2 separate regions of the Homo sapiens genome follow, and region 1 is linked to region 2. Evidence: fine-mapped expression QTL. Tissue or cell type: gastroesophageal junction. Region 2 holds a variant in brackets; the other region holds the start of a gene. All regions are shown on one strand. Distances are from middle to middle.

Region 1 (4,600 bases), 590 kb after region 2:
CACACCACCCGGAGTCCAGGCAGGGGCAAAGGGGCAGGCCCAGCTGGTGGCCAGGGGTGGGGAGGCAGGTGCTGAGATTTGGCACAACAATCCAGGTTTTTCCAGAAGGAAAAGCCAAGGCCGTGGTAGGCCATGCCACTGACAGGCAGCCCCAGAGCAAGGACCCAGGCAGGTCTCTGCCCATGGAAGCTCCCTCAAAAGAGAGAGGTCCAGGGTAGGAGTACAGGCAGGAAAAGGGACCCCAGCTGCCTTGCCTGGTTTGCCCCATTCTGTTGAGACTCAGGCTCAGGCTGCCTGATTCCAGAATCCTCGAGGAGTTCCAGCCCCCAGTGTGACCCACAGGCAGTGACCTTGCTCCTGGAGTGCTGACCTCCATGGGGGCCCCTACCCATGGCCTGGCACACTGGACCTGGGGCTGAGGAACAGAAAGGGGACCATGTGGAATCAGGGACAACTTGACCTCCCATCCCTGGAGACCTCCATTCCTACTCAAGGGAGGGTACACATCTAGAGGACAGAGGACAGGGCACAGCACTCAATGGGGACAGAGACAGTCTAGTCCTTTTGGCTGGGGGTTGACTCCCAGGCTATTGGAAAGATAATGGCGGTGGCGGGGGGGTTTCTGATACCGTTTCCCAGAGTGAACACAGGTGGAGGAAGGTGCGGGGTGATGAAACAGAGACAGGGCCCCTGGGCCTGGAAAAACATAAGGCAGTGAGGGCCTATGGGGGCACAGTGGGAGTGGATGGGAGCCTCTGAGGCACTTGCTGATCCTGGCTGCTTGGGTGGAAAGCTGTAAACAGCCAAAGAATGTTGTCTGCTTGCATGGAGCCAGGAGAGCCTGCCCAGGTCCTCTAAGGCTAGAGGCAGCTACTCCTGGAGTAGGAAAAGGCCACATCCAGGAAGCCCACGAGCCCAGGCAGGGATCTGTCCTTCCACTTGCCCTCCTGAAGGGCCCTGCGGCTCCCACTGGCCCCTGTTATTTACCTGCCAGCTGGCCAGGCCAGGCCAGGTATACCAGGTCCTCAGGCTCAGGAAGGAGGGGCATAGCCCCACTTCCACTTCCAGGGGACTTGGAGATGTGCCCCCCACCTCTGTCCTTGCTTGGCTGGAGGCATCCAGGGCTGGGCAACAGAACTGCAACACTTGAAATGCCCACACTGCCCCATCAGCCTTGGGAGGTGGTAGGAAAATGCCTTTTGCGGGGATGGAAGGATCAAAGCCCATTCTCAAGCCCTGGTATATTCACTCAGGTGGACTTCAGGGCTCCACTCTGCCACTGTCAACATACAGTCCCTCCAGAGAAGTACCCCTCATGTTACAAATGGGGCACGTTCACCAGACTCAGCTTCAGGACAAGACCCCAGGTCATTCCCAACTGAGGCTCCGAGGTGCAGGAGCTCCGTCCTGTCTGTAAAACTCCCTCAGTTTTCGGCTCTGGGTTTGGTGGGGGTTGTTCCTCCCACCTCCAACCTAGAAAGAGAAGCCAGAGGAAGGGAGGTCACATGGTCTGCCCCCCAACCTCTCAGCAGAGATGCAAAGCTACCTGTCCAGGATGGCGGACTCCAGATGGGCCCCGCCCTGTGGTGCAGAAGTGAGATTTGCTGCTCCTCCTGCGTCTGCCCCTCTCCTGCCCTCCTCTCCCTCCCCTATCTGGCTGTCATGGTAGAAGCCACTGCTGGCCAGGCCACTGAAGTACTAAGTGGCCCAAGTGTTGAGGAAGGATGGGGACTGGGTCCTGAGGGCCCATCCGACCTCCAGTTGAGAGCCCCTCCCCTGACCTCCAGCTGCCCGGCCACCCCAGCCGGTCCCTGGGAACTGAGGTGGCAGCTGAGCTCCCCATTATCTTTCCCCACAGCTCCCCACCTGTGGAGGGAGAGGTTGAGATATTGGAGTCCACGGGTGGTGCCCCCACTCAGTGATTCCCTTTGCCTGCTGAGCCCCTGGAGCTGGGGTTTCTTCCTCCCTTGCCTTGGCTGGCCACCTGGCTTCTGGGACCGCCACCTGGGGCACCCTTCTGCTTTAAGGCCCAATATGGGAGGGGTCGTCCCTACCAGCCCCTCCCTTGTGCCCATTCCACTCCCGCCTGGCTGCCGTCTCCAGCTGGTCCCGGCTGCCTGCCCGGTCACCCGATCCGCCCTCTAAACTTTACGGCACGGCGGGCGGTGCGTGGGGCGGTGGCTGGCCTGGTGGGGGCGGGGGCTGCTTCTTAAAGGAGCCGTCAGAGGGTCCCCAGCGGCCCCAGGGTGGGAAGGGGCCAGAGTGGAGAGATGCTGCTGCGGAAGTCCTCGGTGGAGTGTGAGAAGGCAGCCAGTGTTGGCCTGGAAGACCTCTAGAACCTGAGAAGAGGCAGCGGCAAGTGTCAGCGGAGGGAAGGAGGGAGGTGGGGGTCCTGGCCTGGGATGGGGCCAGGAGCTGGGCAGGAGTGTGGGTGGAGGGGCCTGGAACCTGCCTCAGCAGCTGCTCCACTTGCTTAATCCCACCTGGAACCTTGTCCCACTCCCTGGGCTCCTGTGTCCAGCACCTGCCCAGCTGACCCCTGGGAAGGAGGGTGGGCATAGCAGCCAGGTCTTTGCCCCAGCTGAGGGCCAGGGGGAGGTGTCTGGCTCCTAGAGTGAAGGGGCTCAAAGATGGGGAAGAACTCAAGGGGTGAGAGAAGTGAAGGGAGAGGCTCAGAGAGGCTGTGGAGGCGTTGAGAGGGAAGGCCAGCTCAGCGAGGCCAGGAGGCTGGGGTGCAAATGAAGGGCTGCCTCACCTTGCCCCTCTTTGATTCCTCAGGGGTGTGGAGAGAGAGCCCTCAAGCTCAAATGCAGAGGCTGCTTCAGCTGGGTTGGGAGCAGTCCCCAAGTCAGAGGCTGAGGCTTCTGCCCAGGTCTTGGGTCTCCTGGGTAGCACTTCTCCCTCTGAGGAATGGAGTGATTGATGCTGCAGTTGGATTTGCTCACTTGCATGCCCAGAGACATGTCTATTCTTATGGGTGCACACGTTTGCACATGCACAAATGTGCAACACATCTGTGTGCAAAATATGCACATATCACACATATGTACTGCATGGATTGCACAGTGCCACATGTGTGTGCACACCAACCCATATCCACACATGTGCAATATGACACACTATATATTTGCACATAGATGTGCACACACATGCACATACACACTACACACATGCGCACATCACAAGGGGACACTCGGAAACACATTCACAGGCACCCACACCCTTGGCTCCAGCCTCAAAAGTGTCTCTGTGTTTTTCTGCGGGACTGTGGGGACACTGCCACCTCCAGAGGCCTGACCCCCTCCTGTCACTCTCACTCTTTTGACTGGCTTGTTTTGCTCATTGCACTTGGCACCCTCTGCATCCATCTGATTCCTTGTTGGCACTCTGTCCCCTTTCACATGGGGACCTTGTCTATGTCTCCCAGTATCCCTCCTCCCAGGTCTAGGCTGGCATGAAGTGGGTGGCACATTGTGAATTAATGTCTGTGAGTGTGTATACAAGAGAGGAGATTACTGGGAAGGGTGACGTGGTGAGGCGGGCTTGCCAGTGCAGGGTGACCCTGAGGGTGTGCCCAGTGGCGTGGGTGTGTCTGTGATTGTGGCCAGGCGGGGCACCCTCGGAGGGGAGGGTTCGGAAGTGGAATGCGACCCCCCAGCCTCTTTCCCCTAGGGGCTGTAATCTGATCCCTGGGGACTCCCCCCCTAGCCTCCCGCCCTCGCCCTCACTGCTGACTCCTCTTCCAGATCCTGGGGCAGAGTCCAGGGCAGCTCAAGGCTCCTCCACACACACACCCGCTGAACCCTGAGCACCCTGAGCTGCTGAGATGGGGCGGGCCGGGGCTGCCGCCGTGATCCCGGGCCTGGCCCTGCTCTGGGCAGTGGGGCTGGGGAGTGCCGCCCCCAGCCCCCCACGCCTTCGGCTCTCCTTCCAAGGTAGGTGCACCTGGCAGGCGGGAGGGCCCAGCTTGAGGTGGGCAGGAAAGGGTCCCCGTATGGCCAGGGGGCTCTGTGTTGGCTGTTGCCCCATGTGCGTGCCTGTCACCAGACTCTGGTAGGATTAGTGGGCACTCTCAGGCCACCTCCAGTTAACCCTGTCCGGGCCTCAGCCCCCAGCCTCTGCCCACATTCTCTTCGTGCTTTCTCAGGAAGACCCCTCCTGTCCCCACAGCAACAGACCTTGTCTCTGTTCCGTTCAGTACCCCCAACAAGGCGATACTCCTTCAGCAGAGCAACAGGGAAGTCAGAGCCCCCTTCTCATGCCTCCTGTATAGGAGGGTGGCCCCTGGGCAGTGGCAGTGAATAGGCAGTTCTGCTGAGCTCAGGCTGGTGGTGGAGTGGCAGGAAAGGAACTCTCAGCCTGACTTTTGGGAGTTGGGGTTCTGGCCATCCCTGCATGCCAGTCTCCCCCAGGACTCTGGTGTCCATAAGCCTTGCCTCCCAGTGCGCCCGCCTGGAGACACCACCTGTCTGAGCATGCCCAAGTTCAACCTGCCTTCCTCTTCCTGGGGGGATGTACCACCTACCCTGGCAGCTCCACACGTGCACCTGGGTGGGCTTGGGTTTGCGTGTGTAAACTCACACACATGTAAACTCACATG
Region 2 (4,600 bases):
TTTTTTTAACACAGATAAACAGGAATCCCAGCTTCACCTCTGGCCCTCTCCCCAGAATTAACATTTTGATGCGTGTCCTTCTTTCCTGTTTGTTGTTCCAGTCTTCATTTTAAACAGAAGCCAGAAGGTGCAATATATCCTGTTTTCTAGCTTTCTGTTTATTTCCACGTTTATTTCAGGTACTTAAATGTTCGTCTTCCAGTGCTCAACCTCCAGAGAGATACACCATTAGTTCATAGCCAGTCTACCACACACAATCTAAGGAACAGGCACTATGTTCCCAGTGTTCCTATTATAAACAATGCTTGATGAACATCCTATTTTCCAATCTTTCCACCCAAATTGGTGGCTGGGGCCACTCATTCTACTCCTGTTTCTGGCCTTGATACAGTCCTGTACATACTGACAAATGCAGTGGCGTCAGAAAGTTGGGACTCTTTTTTTTTTTTTTTCTTGAGACGGAGTTTCACTCTTGTTGCCCAGGCTGGAGTGCAGTGGCATGATCTCGGCTCACTGCAACCTCCACTTCCCAGGTTCAAGCGATTCTCCTGCCTCAGCCTCCCGAGTAGCTGGGATTACAGGCGCGTGCCACCCAGCCCGGCTAATTTTTGTATTTTTAGTAGAGACAGGGTTTCTCCATGTTGGCCAAGCTGATCCCGAACTCCTGGCCTCAGGTGATCCACCCGCCTCAGCCTCCCAAAGTGCTAGGATTATAGGCGTGAGCCACCGCGCCTGGCACTTTTTTTTTTTTTTTTTTAAGATGGACTCTGGCTGTCGCCCAGGATGGAGTGCAGTGGCGCGATCTCGGCTCACTGCAAGCTCCGCCTCCCGGGTTCACACCATTCTCCTGCCTCAGCCTCCCGAGTAACTGGGACTACAGGCGCCTGCCACCATGCCCAGCTAATTTTTTGTATTTTTAGTAGAGACAGGGTTTCACCGTGTTAGCCAGGATGGTCTCGATCTCCTGACCTCGTGATCCGCCCGCCTCGGCCTTCCAAAGTGCAGGGATTACAGGCGTGAGCCACCGCGCCCGGCCGGCCGGGACTTTTTTTTTTTTTTTTTTTTTTTTTTTTACTTAACTAGTTATCTTGAGTAAGTAATGATGCGGCTGATGGGAAAGGGGAAGCTACAGGCCAGACAAGTGGACTCTCAATCACAAGCACGCCATGGAGCAGGGAGCCAGGGCCCTGAATGTGGAAGACCAGCCAGACTCAGGTATATGGAGGGAACATCCTTACTGTCCAGCCTCTCCTGATCTCTGTTGGCACCTTAGCCCAGCCAATCCTGTACCACGTGCACAGGGAACCTGCCTGCCTAGGTTTTTTCCACAGGAAGCTCCCTGGTCCTGGGTGGAGTCTGAGCCCACCAGGCCTTTCACACCCAAGAGCTCAGGGTGAGGCCTGGGGAGGAAGGCAGGGACCCACCAGCTCACGGTCCCCAACAAGGTGCCACTGAGAAGGCTGGGTAAAGGCTGCGGGGATAGATAGCTCTTGCGGCAGGCCTGGCGACTGATAAGTCCGGGCAGCACCCTAAGAGTTGGCACCCGCCCCTCTGCCCCGCACCCCAGGGCTTTGCTTCGCGCCCTCCGCCCGGACCCTGGCCCTTCTCTTCTTCGTCTGCGTGGAACTCCCTCCAGGGCAGGGCCTGGCACTGTGTAGTGAATGTCGGCCTCGTGGTGGACCCGAAGGAACCCTACAGTCAGCCCCAGAGCCGCGGGAGATCCACGCTGCGGCCGGCTCCGCCCCGCCCAACCCTCACCCTCACGCTCACGCTCACGCTCACGCTCACGCTCACGCTCACAGGCTCCCGGCTCCACATTCCTCGCAGGGCTCCAATCCGGACCCGCCCGCCTTGCCCTTCATCCTCAAAGACTCATTGGTCCCATTCCCCTCGGGCCCCGCCCTTCGCGTGCTTGGGCCATGCCCGTCCGACCGCGCTGCTTCCGCCTTGCAGC[A/AC]CCCCCTCAACCCCTTCTCTCGTAGGCCCTTCTACCCTCCCCGAAGCCGGGCTCCCGGGTTCCGCTTCCACAGGGCCGCCCCCTCTCCTCCGAGATCCAACGCCTCGCCCCTCGGTAAGAGGCCCAGGACTCAGCCCACGGCCCCGCCCCCCACTTGGCTAGTCCGCCCCTGGCGAGACCCCTGCTCTCACCCACCCAGGACTTCTCGCTCCCAGGCCGGGTCCTCTCACCGTCAAGGCCCGCCCCCTGCCAACGGTCCTCACCCATTAGCCGAAGGCCCCGCCCCTCACAGATTGCCGCAGGGCAGGGGCGGAGACAGCCCGGGCCGTCCCAGGCTCCGCCCCCGGAAGCCTCACTTCCGGGCGCGAGCACGCCCCGCCTCGCCCCGGCGGCAGAGAGGAGACTATGGAACGTCAGGTGAGGGCTCGGCCCGCGGTCCCCGTGGTCCCTGCAGCCCGGGCCGGGCCTGACCCTGGTGTGTCCCCTGCGCAGGTGCTGCTGAGCGAGCCCGAGGAGGCGGCGGCTCTGTATCGGGGCCTTAGCCGCCAGCCCGCGCTGAGCGCCGCCTGCCTGGGCCCGGAGGTCACCACGCAGTACGGCGGCCAATACCGGACGGTGCACACTGGTGTGTGTGCGAAGGGGAACTGGCTGGCGACGGGGTCGCGCACTGGGGTGGGAAGGAAGGGGGTGTGGAGGGCTCGCTGCTTGACAGTGCGTAAGGGTATATAGGGAGCCGGCCTGGACTTGGAGGTTACACTCCCACAGGTCCCTGCACACAGGTGTGTGGAGGGGGGGAGGGGGCGTGCGGGGCGTTATCGAATGGCGGCCATGAGTGCACGAGATGACGGCGTAGGGGTAGAAGTCAAACCTGGGCTCAGGGCGTGGACCTTGTAGGGCTCTCCACCAACACGCCATCCCATACACATGCCAGGCTGCCCTCAAGATTCCAGGGTGGATGCTGGGGTTACTAGGGGGTTCTCTCAAAGAGGCTGTCAGCTCAGGCTCTGGAGGCCTGGACTAGGGTTGTGGCCAAGTGTTGTCCAGCCTGCAGCCAGGGTGTCAGTGTCTGGAGACAGATTGAGAGATTGGGGAAGATAGATCTAGGCCTTCCTGGGTCAGGTGGGGCTGGGGGCAGTAGCCAGGAGTAGCCAAGACAAGGTGAGCAGTCTCATGCCTCCCCTCACAGAGTGGACCCAGAGGGACCTGGAACGCATGGAGAACATTCGATTCTGCCGCCAATACCTGGTGTTCCATGACGGGGACTCAGTGGTGTTTGCAGGACCTGCAGGCAACAGTGTGGAGACCCGGGGGGAGTAAGTTTGAGGGAGGAAGCTTGTGGGCAAGGCCACAGCCGTCCGCAATGCAAGCCTTTTATGAATGCTCACCATGTGCCTAGAAGGGAGGCCAGCAGCCAGGTTCTTGCCCCCTTGGGAGCTCATTCAGTTTCTGGTGACATGGCCTGATAAGCACTGGAAGCTTGCTCCAAACTCAGCCTGGACTAGAGCCCATGGTGGCCTGGGGAGTTGCAGAGAGTAGAGTCTCTGCCTCAGGGAGGAAAGGCAAGGTGGGGCTAGAGGTGCTCCAGAAGCTGGTGTGGGGCCAGAGCCTCAAGAATCTCTCCTAAGAGGTGTGCCCAGTAGGGAGCAGGAAGGGGTTATTGCAAGATAATCCTGACCTGTGCTACCCCATGTCCACAGACTGCTGAGCAGAGAGTCTCCTTCAGGCACCATGAAAGCTGTGCTGCGCAAGGCTGGAGGCACGGGCCCTGGGGAAGAGAAGCAGTTCCTGGAGGTGAGTCTGCATGGGACCAGGTAGTGGGTGACAAGAGAGAGGCTCTGCCCCACAGATAAGGCTCTGTTAGCGGGCAAACAGCCTAATGCCCAGATGTCCTCAGGTCTGGGAGAAGAACCGGAAGCTCAAGAGCTTCAACCTGTCAGCGCTGGAGAAACATGGGCCTGTTTATGAGGATGGTGAGGCATCTGGCTGGTGAGCAGGCAGGGTGGACAGGAGGGGTAGCCGTAGCCCTGGGCCCCCCCTGATTGGCCCTCCCTGCACCCAGACTGCTTTGGCTGCCTGTCCTGGTCGCACTCGGAGACACACTTGTTGTATGTGGCAGAGAAGAAGCGCCCCAAGGCCGAGTCCTTCTTTCAGACCAAAGCCTTGGACGTCAGTGCCAGCGATGATGAGATAGCCAGGCTGAAGAAGCCAGACCAAGCCATCAAGGTGCTCGTGGTCAATCCACGAAGGCCCGGCAGGGCAGCCCTGGGGCTCAGTGTGCTCCCTTCCCATACTGTGCCTGTCAGACCTGGGGAGGCACTAGCTTTTAGGAAGCAGAGCAGGTCCTATAGACAGGCTGGGCATTGAGTATCTTGTGTTCTCAGGGGGATCAGTTTGTGTTTTATGAAGACTGGGGAGAAAACATGGTTTCCAAAAGCATCCCTGTGCTCTGCGTGCTGGATGTCGAGAGTGGCAACATCTCTGTGCTTGAGGGGGTCCCTGAGAATGTGTCCCCTGGACAGGTCAGCAGCAACAGCCTGTGTCCCCCCTGGAGTCTGGGACCCTTCTTGAGCTACCACCCCTTGCTCACTCCTGCCCTTTGATCCTGTTTACAGGCATTTTGGGCCCCTGGAGATGCTGGTGTGGTGT

Evidence for each region. PIP is the estimated chance that this variant, and not a neighbour inherited with it, causes the effect.
Region 1: SEMA3B-AS1 starts here. The variant in region 2 is fine-mapped to the expression of SEMA3B-AS1 in gastroesophageal junction (GTEx, PIP above 0.99). The same link has a PIP of 0.9 or more in prostate.

The regions. Positions count from the first base shown.
Region 1 is chr3:50,265,415-50,270,014 of GRCh38, forward strand. It overlaps SEMA3B-AS1 (SEMA3B antisense RNA 1), which reads right to left and starts at 1,957. Exons shown (of 2, transcript NR_110702.1): 1 at 1,867-1,957; 2 at 1,227-1,473. It overlaps SEMA3B (semaphorin 3B), which reads left to right and starts at 3,733. Exons shown (of 17, transcript NM_001290060.2): 1 at 3,733-3,935. The coding sequence starts at 3,827. RefSeq lists an enhancer at 1-88.
Region 2 is chr3:49,672,043-49,676,642 of GRCh38, forward strand. It overlaps APEH (acylaminoacyl-peptide hydrolase), which reads left to right and starts at 2,309. Exons shown (of 22, transcript NM_001640.4): 1 at 2,309-2,371; 2 at 2,447-2,579; 3 at 3,141-3,267; 4 at 3,652-3,745; 5 at 3,849-3,924; 6 at 4,014-4,177; 7 at 4,336-4,473; 8 at 4,567-4,600. The coding sequence starts at 2,360. It also overlaps a transcript of BSN not described here. RefSeq lists a silencer at 1,994-2,603. The variant A/AC (reference allele first, on the strand shown) is at 1,955.